Linked DNA regions of Homo sapiens. The protein of the gene in region 1 interacts with the protein of each later gene in a biochemical or structural test. Each region holds a gene or a part of one and is shown on either strand. Other genes may lie near its edges.

Region 1 (3,752 bases):
CTGATCCTAGAAAGTAAATTCCCAAAGAGACATTACATTTATTCTATGTTTGACAAACCCTTTAACGAACCAGAGCCTAGCCCCTTGCCCCCTATACACACAGGGTATAGCACAAGAAGCCCATTTTAAAGTGAAGGTGTTTTGCAGAGAACTGTTCTGTGGGGTTTTGGGGAGGGGAGGGGCTGAGAGGTTTGGGTTTCTTGCCAGTTAACCCCCGCTTTCCTCACCCTCTGCTTCAGCCAGATGAACCCTTCCTCTAGTTCCCTCGGCTTCCAGGGAAGGAAGGGTCTATTTTCAACCTCGGTCCGACTCCTGAGCTCCAGGCCCAAACTTCTCTCCTACAGTCCCTACAATCCCAACTTAAATTCAGTTCAGCTCCACAAGGAGTAACTGACTACCCTGATGACCTTGTTCCCCAAACCCTCCCAGACACCCTAGGGAGTTGGGGCTCCTCTGGCTTCCCCTCACCTTCTGCATCTCAGCTCTCGGAGGCTCCAGCCATCTCACAGCTCTGCTTTTCTGTGGGGTCATCCTGGGCTCCCCATCTCCCAGCTGGGGTCCTGCCCACACGGTACACACAGCTAGCACTGAAGCAAGGTTCTCCAGGGACCTGCGCGGGTCCTGCCTGAATTCGGCAGGGGAAAGGGGGCAGTAGAGAATGCATCCACTTCCCTTCCTGCCATGATAAACAGCTGCCTCCAGGGGTGCCTCAACTATAGAAACCAAGAGGGTCTGTCTACCTGCTCCAGGCCCGTGTCTACACAGGCTCAGGAAAGCCTGGTCTTGAGCAAATAAGCACCCCATCTAGGAATTAAAACACAGAGAAGAGCTCTTCTGGAGTGCCCAGGTTTCAGTTCAAATGATGGCATTCATTATTTCAGCCTTCCATTTTGCTTTTTCTGCAGTGGGTTCAGTTTAAGTCTACACACCCGGCTTCGAAATGACACCGAAAAACATTCCATTCCATTTTCCCCGAGGGATCCTGTCACTTTTACTTGTTTTACGTGGTATCTAACCTTGAGGTACATGTAAACAGGTGTTTACTAAATTATTTTAATAATGACAGCCATGGCTCAGAGTGTTATTTCATTATCAGAATGTTTAGCACTTCTGTCCCTAAATATTTGGCACCTGATATGTTGCAAAACAATTCCCCATGCCTTTTTTTTTAAAACCAATCTTCTGTTCTCCTCCACAGTGCCCAACATTAACCTAGGCAACTGTGAGGATGGAATCTAGAAACAGATGAAATCAGTGTGATTATTTTGTTAATTAGGCTTGTTGTTAAGTCTCCAGGTGTTTCGCAAACAGTCTATCAGCTTTCTGTAGTCCATATTGGAAAATAAAATTGTCTGCTAAATCTGAATGCTCAGCACTGATTTCAGGGTCCCAGCAAGGAAGAGGTGAGATGACGCCGGCTGACCTGTACCTCCTACAGAACAAACAGCTGCTGTATCAGGCGGGAGGAATTACTGTAAAAGGAAGAAAGTGCTGCCAGCCACTCACCCCTTCTTAGCACAGTGCCAAGGGCTTCTCAGACCTCATGGAACTTGCCACACAACTAAGAAAACCGAGTGAAGAAAGGAATAGAAAAGAAAATGCCAGGCGCTGGAAAACATCACTGGAAATTAGAACAAATCTCAGTTACTTCCTAACCTGGGTCTCCTGAGCTTTTCTGCCATTACCCAGCAGGAGATCCAGGCAGACTCATAAACGGAAATCAACTGTGAAGTGCACCCAGTTGTTTTTGTGTTCTTTTCCCTATTAAAGTTAGGAAAATGTCCTCCTGCCTTTGGCTGGCAAGCTCTGTGACTGCACAGGTCTGGGTTCCCAGATCCCATGCTTCAGGTCACCCCATGCTCCACTGGGCTTGGGCACCACCGGGCCCTCTGGTTACTAAACCATCAGTGAAAAATCAGGGAGAAAATTAACATCTGGCCATACCAAGTTCAGCGATTCACCCAAAAGGCTTCCTCCAGGCTCGGCGGGATGCTGTCTGTGCTGGAAGGGAACAGACGTCTGTGGGAAGAGCCTGCGACGGACTGGGTGGGCTCCAAAGGAGTTCTCATTACAACAGGGTGGAGAGGTCACTGTGGGACCTGGGTCCCTCAGTGATGCCGCGAGGGCCTCCAGTGTGTGCGGCGGCACGGAGACACACTGGTCTTTTGGGTTACCTGTGCCGGGGCAGGTGTGGGCCTGATGGAAGCAGCACAGCCCCAACAGGTCACAAGCTCTAAACTCCCCCTACACCTTTCATCACCAGGCGGACCCTGAAGCCCCTTTCCTGACTCCTAAGCCCTGTGGCGCCACCTACTGGAAGAGGCAGAAGCCACATCTACTGCAGGTCTGGCCAGGTCGCATTCATTCATTCACGCAGACATTTATTTGTTCAGCCTTGCATCGAGGCCCTGGACTGAGCAGCGGCCTGTACTAGGAAGCAGGGATCCCAAGATGAGCAGGGCCTCGAAATCTCCAGTCAGTATGCTCCTTGGATCCCTTTGATAGGTCTTACAGAAGAACCCAACTCAAGCAGTTTTATTTGAAGAACAAATTGAAGAGACCTAGGTCATTGCCAAGACTGAGAGATGGTCCCACGGGGCTAACGGCTCATCATTTCATTTACAAAGCACTGTGCCTGCAGCATCTACCTGTAAGAACAAGTCTCCCTTTACTATGAAGAAGAAATCTTTAAACAGTCTTAGGAGACTGCATTATCAATACTTCTCTCTCAACACCCCAGGTCCCTGAAGGGCATTAGCCTCTCGTGTGATCTATTTAAAATAGCTTTTCCTTATTCCATGTGTGTATGTATACACACACACACTTAAATACTGTTAGTGTGTATTCTATGGAAATAATGAAAAATTGACTCTTTTTAATATATTGTCATATTCTAAAACACTAAAAAGTGCCTGACCAATAGTAGGAATAATATGATGAACTCCAATAGCCCCTTTCCTCCAGTTTTCTCCATGCAGGATCAAGAAAAAGCAAAGCTATTGCCACAGCTTTCTTTAACCTGCTCAAGCTGATGTGCGAGCAATGTTGTTCTCTGACCATTTGTAAAGAAAGTTAACTGTGATCATTATTATTATTACCTTATTACAGTGATTCTTATTCTGCTGAATCGCTAAGTAGTTAAAAGAAAAGCACAGTGTGTCTTGCACTCCCCAAACACATGTTTCTCCCCTCTGCCTTGTCTCTAGCAGATAAGGGACATTCTGGTGTTTTATTTGTTCAATGGTTGACTATTAAGACACTCATTTGCTAGCTGGAGCCTGCAATAGAAAATCGGCCCAGAAAAGTGGGAGGCTGGCACAGGCCCAGAGCAGACAGGGCACCAGAGGCGAGGCAAGGCTTGAGTGTGCCACCCCAGCCTGAAACCCAGGGTCAGAAGCTGGTCCTTCAATGAACTTCCAGGCTGTTCCCAGGCACTGACCTCCAGTCTCCAGTTCGACCCTCAACACACACACACACACACACACACACACACACACACACACACTCACACACACTCACACATGCACACACTCCACGGAAAAGGTGAGGGAGCAAGGACTGGTGCATTCCACATCTCAGAGCATGTCGGGAAGAGAGGAATGCACAGCCCCCGCCACTGACAACTTTTTTGGTTCTCGACTCTTTGTTTCGTCACCATTACTGATCTTCTGAGGCAGTCCTAGACTCCTCTTCTGTCTCCTGAAACTCTAACCCCTATGATGGCTCACCCGCCCCCTTTAGTGATTAGCCAC
Region 2 (3,752 bases), on another chromosome or scaffold:
CTGTAGACCCAGCTACTCAGGAGGCTGAGGCAGGAGAATGGCGTAAACCCGGGAGGCAGAGCTTGCAGTAAGCCGAGATCGCGCCACTGCACTCCAGCCTGGGCAAAAGAGACTCCATCTCAAAAAAAAAAAAAAAAAAAAAAAAAAAGGAAAAAAACAAAACTAACATGGTCATTTGCAGAAGGGGCAGAAAAAGGGTCTCTGCCTAGACCTGGGGAGGTCAGGGAAAGTACTATGGATTGGTAACAACCGGCTGGGCTTCCTACAAGAGAAAAAGACTATACTCACAGAGCCAGACCCCATCTCAAAAAAAAAAAAAAAAAAAAGTCTGGCATGGTGGCTCAAACCTGTAATCCCAGCACCTTGGGAGGCTGAAGCAGGGGGATCACTTGAGCCTAGGAGTTTAACAACATAGTGAGACCTCATCACTACTTTTTTATTTTAAAAAAGAGTTAATAAAAAATAAAATGAAAATAAAAGGGTAAAAGAGCCAGTGGCAAAGTCTTGAGTGGATTAAAGCCAGCTCAGCTAACTTTCACAGCAGACTATATCATTTTAAAGGGGAAAAAGCACATCTCTGTTACATTGCTTAGGAAATATGCTTGGTATATACCCTGGGGCAATCTTATCTATTTGTTAAGTTTCCTTCCAACCCACTAGCCTGTGTGGCCAGGAGAGGGAGACAAAGATCTTAGAGCTCTCTAAATAATAGAACTTAAAACATCAGACAGAGAAGAGTATATTATCTTGGTGATGGTAATTCTCAATGAGGAAAATCCTGGGGAGGGATGTTCTGTGGGAGAATGCCTGCAAGTTTATTTGTTTAGTAGGTTTGATTATTCAGCTGATTGAAATTCCTTTCCCAGATGGGGAGATCTGATTCTCTTTTCATGAAGGAAAGAAAAGTCACATGCTAAAGAGACGGGCATGTCTTTAGAACGGCAGCAGGCAAACCCACTGCTGGGATCCTGGGGCTTTTACTAGTGGCTAGTCACAGGTTTACCTCCTGCCTGTGCTCCTTCTAGCTGTGTTGAAACCCACTTGCCCCATCTATGAACCGTGTTCAGCTCCATTTTCTGAGCCCCCTTATCTTTTTGTCCATACCTGTTGCAACTCTTTGCACGTTGCATTGTCATTGATTTGGTCTCTCCCATTCAACTGAGCCTCTCACAGAGTTCCTGTCACCTCTGCAGTTTCATCGCCTAGCATAGTACCTGGCACTTTAATTCATGCATCAAATGTCCATTGAGTGCCTTCTATGTGTTAGACATCTGCTATACCGAGCTAGACAAAGTTGGCAGACATGACAGCCGAGTGGAAAAGATGAGCCCCTAAACCAATAATCACACACACACACACACACACACACACACACAATATATATATATATATATATATATATATATATGTATGTTATATATATGTATGTTATATATATGTATGTATGTATGTATTAAAAAATCTTGGCCGGGAGCGGTGGCTCACACCTGTAATCTCAGCACTTTGGGAGGCCGAGGCAGGTGGATCACGAGGTCACGAGATCGAGACCATCCTGGCTAACATGGCGAAACCCCGTCTCTACTAAAAATACAAAACATTAGCCAGGCGTAGTGGCGGTTGCCTGTAGTCCCAGCTACTTGGGAGGCTGAGACAGGAGAATCACTTGAACCTGGGAGGCAGAGGTTGCAGTGAGCCAAGATCGCGCCACTGCACTCCAGCCTGGGTGACAGAGCGAGACTCCGTCTCAAAAAAACAAAAAATTTTTGCCTTGCAATCGTTTGCCTTGATGTTATGTCTAAAGCCCCACAATTCTCTAAAAACAGAGATGTATAAAAAAGCACACGTATATAATTCTCTGAAAACAGAATATAAATGAGTCATTGCTCCATTTAACTGACATTTGTTGAGTGCTTGTTATAAATATGGCATTATTCTAGCTGGTGTGAGGTTACCAATTTTTTTTAAACAAAAGTAATATGAATATATACACACACATTTAGTGACTGCATATGTGATGTGTGCTTTTGAAGAAAAAGGAGATGCTGTTGGAGGAAAATGGTGGTGGTGGTGGGAAGTGATTTAGAGTAGAACCAGGGAAGTCTCAGAAGTGACAACTAGCTGGAACCTAAAGAACGAGGAGGTAGCAGGTGGAAGAGAAAGGCAAAGGCATTCTAGGTTGAGAGAATAGGATGTGATAATGTCCCGAGGAAAGAGAGCTTACTGACAGGGAGGGAAGATGTCAGGTGTGACCGAACTGTAGTGAGCAAAGGGTAACTGAGGAGGTGGTCAGGAGCCTGCTCAGCCAATGGGGTAAATACTGTTAAGGAATTAGGACTTGATTTTAAGAACAACCATCGCATCATTTTAAAAGCAAACAAATTGCACTATAATTTCCCTCTTCAAAAAGGCACATTGGCTGTGCACGGTGGCTGACACATGTAATCCCAGCACTTTGGGAGGCTGAGGCGGGTGGATCACCTGAAGTCAGGAGTTCGAGACCAGCCTGGCCAATGTGTTGAAACCCCGTCTCTACCAAAAATACAAAAGTTAGCCAGGCGTGGTGACATGTGCCTGTAATCCCAGCTACTTGGGAGGCTGAGGCATGAGAATTGCTTGAACTGGGGAGGCGGAGGTTTCAGTGAGCAGAGATCGTGCCACCCCACTCCAGCCTGGACGACAGAGCAAGATTCCGTCTTAAGAAAAAAAAAAGGGCACATTGATGGCTATTCAAGGCAGAGAGGGGCACATATAACCCCAAAGAGATGGCTCTGGGGAGGGTTGTGTTGTATTACATTGTTGGCATTGTATTATCCAGGTGAGAGATGCTGGAGGCTGGGCGGTGCCAGTGGTGATGAAAAGGAGAGATGGATTTGAAACATAGGAATAATCTCTCAGATTGTTTCTTGGCATCACTTACCTAAAATGCTTCTTTCAAATATAGATGTACACACCCCTCCCTTTAGGATACTTGGGACAATGTGCCACTTAGACATAGGGGATGGAACAAATTGGAGAGTCTGTCAATGCCCCCTGCAATCTTTTCTCTTGATGTTATCTCATAATGCCCCACAATTCTCTAAAAACAGAGAACATAAATGAGTCATTGGTCCATTCCACTGACGTTTGTTGAGTGCTTGTTATGAATGTGGCATTATTCTAGCTCTTGTAAGGTTACCAATTTTTTAAAAAACAAAAGTAATGCAAGACTGCTGATGAAAATTTGGAATATGAGAAAAGCATAAAGAAGAAAATACATATCTTTAAGCACACCACCCACTGTTAACATTCTGATCTATGTACTTCTAATATTTTCTCCATTTTCATATGTACACATACATTTATTTACATGCATATATAAATATCAAAGTGTATATATATAATTTTCTCTGCCATTTAAATTTTTACTGTGTAACAATCATGGATTGTAAAAAAAGTGAATAAAATGTACGCAGTCAGTTTAAAGACTAACAAAATATGCATTAAATCACCAGCCAGGTTAAGAAGAAATACTATTACTTATACCCTGGCATCTCCCTCCCACCTTTACATAGCCAAATCCAGAAAAGATCCGTTTTCCTAACCTTGTTCGCCTATTTTATTATTTAAATTGCAGCAGGAGGGAAGCATGTCTACTTTATCCAATTTCACACAGACGCTGGAAGACGTCTTCCGAAGGATTTTTATTACTTATATGGACAATTGGCGCCAGAACACAACAGCTGAGCAAGAGGCCCTCCAAGCCAAAGTTGATG

Evidence for each region. The genes of interacting proteins can lie anywhere in the genome.
Region 2: the proteins of CACNA1C (region 1) and KCNE2 form a complex in vitro, tested with the Homo sapiens proteins (one study listed by BioGRID).

Annotation. Positions count from the first base shown.
Region 1 is NC_000012.12:2,055,950-2,059,701, reverse strand, and holds part of CACNA1C (voltage-dependent L-type calcium channel subunit alpha-1C), read right to left. Parts: intron 1-3,752. UniProt on the Homo sapiens protein: Pore-forming, alpha-1C subunit of the voltage-gated calcium channel that gives rise to L-type calcium currents. Mediates influx of calcium ions into the cytoplasm, and thereby triggers calcium release from the sarcoplasm.
Region 2 is NC_000021.9:34,366,854-34,370,605, forward strand, and holds part of KCNE2 (potassium voltage-gated channel subfamily E member 2), read left to right. Parts: intron 1-3,317; exon of another isoform or gene 3,318-3,613; 5' UTR 3,614-3,625; coding exon 3,626-3,752. UniProt on the Homo sapiens protein: Ancillary protein that functions as a regulatory subunit of the voltage-gated potassium (Kv) channel complex composed of pore-forming and potassium-conducting alpha subunits and of regulatory beta subunits.